3 linked regions of the Homo sapiens genome follow. The protein of the gene in region 3 purifies or fractionates together with the protein of the main gene of each other region. This does not show direct contact. Each region holds a gene or a part of one and is shown on either strand. Other genes may lie near its edges. The genes, in order: DCBLD1, CELSR1 and PCDH12.

Region 1 (3,655 bases), on a different chromosome or scaffold from region 3:
AAACTTAAGTTACTTTTATTATTGTTAAATACAACTCTGTACACATTACACCTTTAACACCAAAGCAGCTCAATATCAGTCAGAGGAATGAAAACGCCATCTGAAAATTTTCATTTTTCTAGCCCAACAAAACCCAACAGACGCACCCTAAGGGTCAGCACGAAACCAGCTGCACAATTTTGTAAACAGTATGACAGGTTGTCTCTAGGATCCTACTGGATCACACACACACATGCAAGTGTACACACACACCGATACACACGCACACTCTGGACCAGCAGGCTCCCTTCTTCCAGTGCCTTGTGACAGCCCGACGCTCAGTACCACAGCAGGCTTCTTTCACATTGTGTTCACAAAAGGGCAGTCATGGCCGTCTGGTTGAGGGGTGTGAGGCAGTCTCTGGGGGCAGAATAGCTGTCACTCGTCCCGGGATGCGTTGGGGGCTTCTGAGAGTCAGGGTGCCCGCTTTCGGTGGCGAGGGCGCTGACAGCTTTGGGCCGGTCGTAGCCCCTGTCCGCAGGCTGTGCGCTGTGTGGCCTTTGATAGTCTCCGTCCTGGGCGCCCACACCCGCTACGGGGGAGAAGCCGCCCGAGGAGAGGGAGTGTTTGTGGCCGGGCTGGGGCCCTGGGACGCGGTAGCCGCTCTGCGCAGAGAACGTGTGGGCGCGCAGCACGTGCCGCTCCACGATGGGCGTGGCGTACTCGGGCTCCGGGGGCGCCAGGGGCAGCGCGTACTCGTGGCGGCCGGCCCGCTGCGGGCAGTCATAGTGGCCGCCGGCATCGGTGCTCACCCCTGCCTCCTCGGCATCCGTGTCCATGGGCCGGAAGGTGGAGCCCTTCCTCGTGACTGTCCCGGTGCCAATCATGAGGGGCTGCTGGTAATCTGAAACCACAAGACAGATGGCAGCTAGCGGGCACCACACACGGGCCGGCCTGTCAGTGGCAGACGGGGATACTCTGCTTCAGGTCGTGGTGACTGACTTTCCCCCCGGGTGCCCTCAGGTGTCCCAGGCACTGCGGAAAACCCTGATGTGAAAGCCACAGAAGCCACCCGCAGGCAGTACACAACCGCACCGCCTGCTCAGGAAGCTTCGCAGGGTCTTCTCAGAGATGGGGGCGACGACGACGTCCTGGGGCATGGGGACATACTTCAGGGAGGAAGTGGCTCTGAAACTGGCTCTGGAGAAGCTATGGAGGTGGAAGTCACACAGTGTGGAAATGGAGAAAAAAACAGCCTCGAAAATAGAGTTGATATGGCCAGAGTATGAGGGACACAGAGTAGTTTGTTTAATAGGATATGAGGACCAAAGCAACAGGTCAGGGCCTAGTGGTGACAGTGAGGATGATGCCAGGAGCTCCCATTTATAGAGCTCCTACTCTTTGCCAGGCGCTATTCCAATAGCAAGATGTTAATAATCTTCAAAAAAATCCCGAGGTAGGAACTGTTACTCCATTTTACAAATGGGAAACCAAGGCAGAGAGAGACTAACTTTTCCTAGGTCACACAATGGGGCGATGGAGTAGGATTCGAACGCACATCCTGAGTATATGCTGTTAGCCACGCGTTAGAGCATGGAAAAGCATTGATTGTCTTGCTAGGAAGTCTGGTTTAATTCTATGGGAAACGAAAGACTGGCACTTTCAGAGGTAACTGTGGAGGTTGACCCAAGAGGAAAAGATCAAAAAGTGAGAGGTAAAAAAGCAAAGAGAAATGCACATAGAAGTCACAAACTAGGAAAGAGGAAAAGTGACCCTTTGGGACAGGAATCAGGAATTTGTTACCAATGAGAGGTGGGGTGTGAGGAAAGCCGGGAGGCAAGGACTCTTTGAGGCTGGGATGTGCAGTCGAGAAGCCATTAGACAAGGAATGCACAGAGCATCTGTGGTGAGGGTTAGGAACAATGGATTCGATTGTGGTTGCTGAGGAACGGGTGACATCTGCAGGTGGAGGTGTCCAGCAGGCTGCTGAGAATTATGGACTGGGGACTGAGAGGGAAGTCTGGGTGTGAGAAGCAGCATGGACAAACATGCAGGGAAGGGCACTGCTGGAAGTTGGGGAGGGTGTGGGACTGTTTAGGGGAGAGACTGTGGTGAGTGGGGGTGAGACAGAACCCGGGTCATTGCACATTTAAGGAGCCTGAGGATCATTCAGGGAGGAGGGAGGAGAGACTGAATTAGAAGCTGAAGGAGAATGAAAGGCATAAGACAACAGAAATTAGGTTCTCCCTTCATGTCACTTCCAAGGAACAAGAGGATGGATTTTGGTTGCAGAGGATGCTCTCCTTGTCCACAAAGTGACTCAACCAACCCTTAGGCTGACAACTCCCAGTCACTGATGTGCACAGGCGTCACCTGGGAGCTTCTAGTTCTATGGCCTCCCTTTCTAACAAGCCCCCAGGTGATGCCTATACTGCAGGTCCTCAGGCTGCACGTGAGGAGGGAGAAGCCAGAGCGCAGTGCTACTCAGAGCATGCCCCACAGAGTCCTATGTATCTGAGAGCTGTTTTTAGCAGTGCCATAGAGACAGGTGCAGAAATTGAGACTAAGTGTCAAGAAACTACTCTTAGTTACTCTTTATTACTCTTAATTTTATGTCTGTTGAATCTAATAATAAAAAATTAGAGCTTTGTATTTTGTATCTTTAAAATTTCCTTATTACTAGTATTTTATATTGCATTTTACAGTGTATTCATTCATGATGGAGTAGAAATTTTAAAAAAAGAAACAAAAAGCATTTCCCCATAGATGGTTTGGGAAGCTCGACTCTTGATGTGGCTTGTCAGGGACACTGAGGCCCTTCTCATACTGAGAGAGTTCCTTTATTTCCTATCTCACCTTCCTCAGGGCAGGAACTGTATTTAATTCCTCCTTTCAGCCCCTCTGTACCAGTGCCTTAATCAAAGCTTTGGTAACAAAAATAGATTCAGGGCTTCCAGATACAAGTAGTACATCAGGGCTATCACTATGGATGTCACTATATCCCCTGCAGGTGAAAAGACTGGCTGAATAGGGCTTTTAAGTAATATCTCAGTGTCAGTTTGTAATTCTGTGCAGAATGCAGAAAAAACACATTTCAGATTTACTGGACCCTATCTAAATAGAAAAGGATTTTGCCTTATTTCTCTCCTGTCTCCCTCCCCCACAAGCAGCACCTCCAATCTAATAGCACAGTCCTAGAAATATGACACTTACCTGCCATATCACTTGTGATGAGATCTAACTTTTGTGTCATCTCCTTCTCATTATCATAGCTGATGGTAAACTCAGCTGACTGATGTCTGGCAAAGGGATATTTAATCTGCTTCCAACAGTCTGGAATAAAGGTAACATAAACCAAATGAATATGTCAGAAATGTAATGCGCGTCCTCCAGAACATGTTCCTTGATGAGTCAGAGGTCAGGCTGCCTCCTGACAGCTGACAGTGATCAATGTCCTCCTCAGGTGTGTGTGCTAAGAACAGCATGCCAAGGTCATTAACCACAACAGCAAACACTACTCTAACCATGCTTTCCGCTGTGCCTTTAAAAGGTATTTTGCCCTCATCAGGTCCCAGATTCTCCCTTTGTGAGATCATCTGGGTATGGTCTCCGACAATCTGCACTGGCATGGCATCTGTGAGGCAGAGGAGACACTGCAGCTGGTGTTTAGACCCTG
Region 2 (3,655 bases), on a different chromosome or scaffold from region 3:
TGCCTGCACCTGGTGTCACCACTCTACCCCTGAGCTCAGCCCCCTTGCTCATCGGATGGTCCATCTCCACCCAGCCGCAGAAGTCAGGACCACACTGGCTCTCCCGGCTTTCGCACACAGCAGGTGCTCAATAAACAAACCAACACTCCTTATTTCTGAGGCAGTGTTTCTCAAGGTATGAGCAAGCCACTGTCTCCAGACTTATCAGAGCTCTGAAATGGTTAACTCATTGCCAAAAGCACTGAACTCTCCTGGGAAGGTTTGACACTGGCAGAATCCTGCTTGGCCACTGAAGCAATTTAAGATGGTCCGACCCAGGCTGGGAGCGGTGGCTCACGCCTGTAATCCCAGCATTTTGGGAGGCTGAGGCGGGCGGATAGCCTGAGGTCAGGAGTTGGAGACCAGCCTGGCCAGCATGGTGAAACCCCATCTCTACAAAAATACAAAAATTAGCCAGGCATGATGGCGGGTACCTATAATCCCAGCTACTTGGGAAGCTGAGGCAGCTGAGGCAGGAGAATCACTTGAACCCGGGAGGCAGAGGTTGCAGTGAGCCAAATCATGCCATTGCACTCCAGCCTGGGAGACAGAGCAAGACTGTCTCAAAAAAAAAAAAAAAAAGGTCCGATCCTTCCCTACCCTGTGAGTTCCAGAAAAGCACGCTGCCATGCATCCAGACAATGCCTGAACAGTAGCCCGCCCCTACTTCCTTCTTTGCAATCGTCTGTTTAAAAGCCACTGCAATATCCTGTATTTAACTAGGCAAACACTTAGGGAAGCTTTATCAAGCCTAGACGACTTTATACCATCCACTCTCCACCAAAGTCAACGGCGAGAAGGTTACTCAATCCTGTTATTTCACCGAGTTTCAGTATTTTCTGACATGCCTGAATGACTCATCCGCCAATCATTCTCACCCACAAACGCCACTTTCCTACATCCATGGGTCTGCAACACACACAGCAGGAGAGGCAGGGACATCGCCTTTCTCCCAAGCTCCGCATTCTGCAACAAGAGGCCTACAGCCCTGCACCCACGGACACACACTCAAAGTGAATTAAAAATGACGTGGCCCGGCCACAGATGACTGGAGAAAAGAAATGTGGTACATATATACCATGGTGTACTATTCCACTATAAAAAAGAATGAGGCCAGACGCGGTGGCTCACGCCTGTAATCCCAGCACTTTGGGAGGCTGAGGCGGGCGGATCACGAGGTCAGGAGATCGAGGCCATCCTGGTTAACACGGTGAAACCCTGTCTCTACTAAAAATACAAAAAAATCAGCCGGGCGTGGTGGCGGGCGCCTGTAGTCCCAGCTACTCGGGAGGCTGAGGCAGGAGAACGGCGTGAACCCGGGAGGCGGAGCTTGCAGTGAGCTGAGATCGCGCCACTGCACTCCAGCCTGGGCGACAGAGCGAGACTCTGTCTCAAAATAAAATAAAATAAAATAAAATAAAATAAAAATAAAAAAGAATGAGATCCTGGGCCGGGCACAGTGGCTCACGCCTATAATCCCACCACTTTGGGAGGCCAAGGCAGGTGGATCACGAGGTCAGGAGATCGACACCATCTTGGCTAACACGGTGAAACCCCGTCTCTACTAAAAATACAAAAAAATTAGCTGGGTGTGGTGGCGGGTACCTGTAGTCCCAGCTACTCAGGAGGCTGAGGCAGGAGAATGGTGTGAACCCAGGAGGCGGAGCTTGCAGTGAGCCGAGATGGTGCCACTGCACTCCAGCCTGGGCAGCAGAGTGAGACTCCATTTCAAAAAAAAAAAAGAATGAGATCCTGTCATTTGCAACAACCTGGATGGAACTGGAGGTCATTATGTTAAGTGAAATAAGCCAGGCACAGAAAAACAAATATCCCACGTTCACACTTGCTTGTGAGATCTAAAAATCAAAGCAATTGAACTCATGGGGACAGAGAATAGAAGAATGGTTACCAGAAGCTGGGAAGGGGGTAGCAGGAGGAAGGTGGATGGTCAATGGGTACAAAAAAATAGCTAAAAAAATGAATAAGGCCAGGCACAGTGGCTCACGCCTGTAATCCCAGCCCTTTGGGAGGCCAAGGCAGGCAGATCACTTGAGGTCAGGAGTTCGAGACCAGCCTGGCCAACATGGTGAAACCTTGTCTCTAAGAAACATACAAAAATTAGCTGGGTGTGGTGGCGTGCACCTGTAATCCAATGTACTCAGGAGGCTGAGGTAGGATAATCACTTGAACCCAGGAGGTAGAGGTTGCAGTGAGCCGAGATCATGTCACTGCACTCTAGGCTGGGAGATACAGTGAGACTCCATCTCAAAAAAAAAAAAAGAATAAGACCTAGTATTTAGCCCAACAGTGAGACTACAGTCAATAATAATTTAATTGTACATTCAAAAATAACTAAAAGAGTATAATTGGACTGTTTATAACACAAAGGATAAATGCTTGAGGGGATGGAGACCCCATTCTCCATGATGTGATCATTACACATTGCATGCCTGTGCCAGAATATCTCATGTACCTCATAAATACATACATCTAACCAGGCACAGTGGCTCATGCCTATAATTTCAGCACTTTGGGAGGCCAAGGCAGATGGATCACTTGAGCTCAGAGGTTGGAGACCAGACTGAATAACATAGTGAGACCTTGTCTCTATTACAAATAATTAAAAAAAAAATCAGCCAGGTGTGGTGGTGCAATGAGCTGAGATCAAGGCTGACATGAATCGTGATCATGCCACTGCACTCCAGCTGGGGCAAGAGAGCAAGACCCTGTCTCATACACACACACACACATATATATATACACACACATAAATTTGTGTATATAATTTATATATAATTCATTATAACATATATTATATATTATATATAATTCATTATATATAAATTGTTTTTCAAAAATAAAAATAAAACAAAGAATGTCAATGTTTCTGAAAGACCACTGTCCAGAAAGAAGGCAGAGCACATTCAAGGCTTGAGTTGTCCACTGGGTCATCAGCCACGTTGCCCTGAAAAACGCAAACACAGCCTTTATACAAGCTCATAATAAAAAGTTCCTATCACAGAATTTAAAATCTCATTCAAAAACTATCGCAAAAAATGAACATCTTGTATCGCTGGATGTCATTCAAAACTGGCAGCTATTTGAATTTCACTATCTTCTGACTTCAAAAAATTTTCAAAAAATGTTTTCTCCTTGGTGGGCTACATAAAACCACCAACAACTATCTAGTCACAGTCACAGTGTTCAACCCCACGCCAGGCTAAATGAACTGCCCCCACCACGTGGGCCTTCCCAGGCCCTGCCCTCCGATGCGCTCCTCCCTCCTGGGCTCCTCTGCTGAAAGCTGGCAGCCCTTCCTGGAATGGCTCCCACTAAACGTAGTCGATGGCTGGCCTGTTGCATACAGCACCTCCAGGCTGGTCATATTGCATCAAAGGCTTTAGGGCATGGCTGTAAATCCTGGGGAAGCAACAACACTCCATTGAAAACAGTGGATGAGTTTGAAACCACCGCTTCCCCGCATTGTTCCTTAATAAAACCTCCAGATAATTCAAGGGCTGATCTTTTTGTTTGGTCTGTTTTCTATCCGGTGCTTTGCTGTCTGGAACCATAGATCTTATAGTCAATAGTGATTTACTTATTTGGAGCATTAAAT
Region 3 (2,716 bases):
TTATGAGATAGGGGCTATTCATTATCCCCATTTCATAAAGGAAAAATGTGAGGGTCAGGGGTGTTTCATAATTTGCCCAAGGTTGTGCAGCTCGTGGATGGTTATTAACACAGGCAGTGTGGCTGTAAATTTTAGAGCTGTGTTGTTCAATGAGGTAGTCACTAGCGACAAGTGGCTATTTAAATTTAAGTGAATTAAAATTAAATAAAATAAAATATTCAGTTCTGCCATACCAGCCACATTTCAAGTGCTCACTGGCTATGTATGGCTGGGGGATATAGCTTTGGATTCTATCTCTATTGGTCAGCTCTGGCTGGAACCTGTGGGGTCAGTTCCCACACGGTCCTGCTTGCCCACAGCACAAAGGGTACTGAACACAGGGGCACTGTAAGGAGTTGGGGGTAAGGAAAGAGGAGGGGCAGAAAAGCCTTTGCTGCTCACAGGCTGGACTGCCATGGGGAGACTGGGATCTTGCTGCTTCAGATCTGCTTCAGATTGCTTCAGATTTGCTGCTTCGGATTCAGATTGCCCCACTTGAGAATGCGACCATGATAATGTTTTCCTGGTTGCATGAACTCACTGAACCTCACAACAACTCCACAAGATACGTACTACTGTCTCACCACTTCCTAAGAGGAAACGGGAGCTTAGAGAGGTTAAGCCATTTTCCCAAGGTCACACACACTGCCCCTAAGCTGCAAAGCTGGGAAATCAAACCCAGGTTGGCCCAGTGCCCACCTGCAGCTAGAACTGGTGGGTGATGCTGGGTGAATTCAGCATCACTTTTCAGCTGTTCTCATACGCCCCAGTGATTTTCTCATTCCAAGCTTCACTCCTTCTGAAGCTCTCTGACCCATGTAAAAGGAAAGGCCTGATTCTATAACACCAAGAGTTCCATCCAACCTTATAGCCTCAGAGTCTCAAGGAACTAAGGTTTGCATTTCCCAAATGTTGAAGGTTAATATTTATGTTCATTCAATCATTCAACAAACATTCACTAAGTCCCAGGCATGGGGCTAAACCCAAGGATCCAGTAGGGCAGGAGCCCAACAGTGTCTCACAAGCTGCACAGTCCAGAATGCAGGGCAGAGATTCATTTATCAGTACAATAAATGACTACACATACTTCGGAATAACTTGTTCAAATTACATAAGTAATATTTGGTTAATATAGAAAAACATAGATAAACAAAAAGAGAATGGATTGCTTCTGCCCAGAGGTAATTTCAGTTAACATTTTGACATATCTCCTTCCAGTCTTTCATTCTGTGCGCAGATTTTAAAGTAACTCACCTTAGGCAAACATTAGATAAATGTTAAGTAGATGTTGTGCTTTTTTTTTTTTTTTTAATTTTTTTAAGACACTGTTTCTTAACTCCAAGACTTATAATTTCTTTCCTCTGGCTTGGTCTCTACCATCAGGCCTGGGACTGGTTTCTTGAAACAGGATTTTCTGTTAAAGGGATGGGAAAAGAAGGGTGACTGTGGCATTGCAAATGTAGGGGCCAGTTTTTTGAATTCCCAGCCACCAGGCTGACTTGCCACCGCCACTACCCCAGTCCCTCTCCTGGGACAGCCCTTGGACAGGCAGCCCCTCCCCAGCCTGACTCTAGGCCAGGGTTCCAGCAGCTTGAGAGATGATGTTGAGGAGGATTTGAGGATCTGGGGCCAGGTGGTAACAGTGCAGACCTTAGGTAGCCTGGGAATTCCAGAGGCCCCAGCTGGGCACCTGGAGTATCCAGGGGGAGGAAGGGCCAGCTCTTCAGAGAGAGGGTAGGGTGGTGCCATCATAGGCTTCAAAGTCATCAGACCTGGCATCAAATTGAGGTTTGGTTGCCTAGCAGATGTGTGACTTAACTTCTTTCAGCTTCAGTTTCCTCATCCATCAAATGGGAATAATACTCTTGACCTCAAAGGTTTGTGAAGTTAAATGAAATAATTATGTAAATTGCTCATCACGTAAGTACCTAATATGTGGTCCCTATTATTATGGATGGGAACCAAAAAAGGCAGCGCTAAGTCAGGAACTCCAGCCTTGGCAAAGAAAAGGGATTTTCCCTCCATCCTCAGCTAGTGGAGCCCTGAGGGGAGAAGGCGCCCTGAGGGGTAAAAATCCTGGATGAAATATAGAAGACACTGAGACTGGAAACACACGCCCAGATTGGGAAATTCTTCAGAAATCGGCAAATTTCTACTTCTAGGCCTTCTCCTCCTCCTGCTGCTTCCCCACTTGGTTCGCCCGGGTGTGTCAGTCGACTGCTTTCCTACCCAGGGAGCTTCCCTGTCAGGGCCTCTTCCTTCCTGTCCCCGTCTGGCCACTCTGTCTGTCCCCTGCCATTTCCCTTCCCTCCTTTGTCCACTGCCCTTGCCCTGCTCATTGCCCCACCCTCACCCGCCTGGCCCTTCCCGGAGCCTGGCCCTCACTGTGTCCCCTCCTTCCCCCACAGGTCTGGCCCTGGACCGGCTGAGCGCCCCTGACCCGGCCTGGATGGCGAGACTCTCTTTGCCCCTCACCACCAACTACCGTGACAATGTGATCTCCCCGGATGCTGCAGCCACGGAGGAGCCAAGGACCTTCCAGACGTTCGGCAAGGCAGAGGCACCAGAGCTGAGCCCAACAGGCACGAGGCTGGCCAGCACCTTTGTCTCGGAGATGAGCTCACTGCTGGAGATGCTGCTGGAACAGCGCTCCAGCATGCCCGTGGAGGCCGCCTCC

The links.
Region 1: the proteins of PCDH12 (region 3) and DCBLD1 purify together in Homo sapiens (affinity purification with mass spectrometry; 2 studies listed by BioGRID and IntAct, with this or other methods). This does not show direct contact.
Region 2: the proteins of PCDH12 (region 3) and CELSR1 purify together in Homo sapiens (affinity purification with mass spectrometry; 2 studies listed by BioGRID and IntAct, with this or other methods). This does not show direct contact.

Annotation. Positions count from the first base shown.
Region 1 is NC_000006.12:117,545,135-117,548,789, reverse strand, and holds part of DCBLD1 (discoidin, CUB and LCCL domain-containing protein 1 isoform 1 precursor), read right to left. Parts: intron 3,313-3,655; coding exon 3,193-3,312; intron 1,189-3,192; coding exon of another isoform or gene 1,151-1,188; exon of another isoform or gene 884-1,150; coding exon 351-883; 3' UTR 1-350.
Region 2 is NC_000022.11:46,527,497-46,531,151, forward strand, and holds part of CELSR1 (cadherin EGF LAG seven-pass G-type receptor 1 isoform 1 precursor), read right to left. Parts: intron 1-3,655. UniProt on the Homo sapiens protein: Receptor that may have an important role in cell/cell signaling during nervous system formation.
Region 3 is NC_000005.10:141,945,537-141,948,252, reverse strand, and holds part of PCDH12 (protocadherin-12 precursor), read left to right. Parts: intron 1-2,447; coding exon 2,448-2,716. UniProt on the Homo sapiens protein: Cellular adhesion molecule that may play an important role in cell-cell interactions at interendothelial junctions. Acts as a regulator of cell migration, probably via increasing cell-cell adhesion.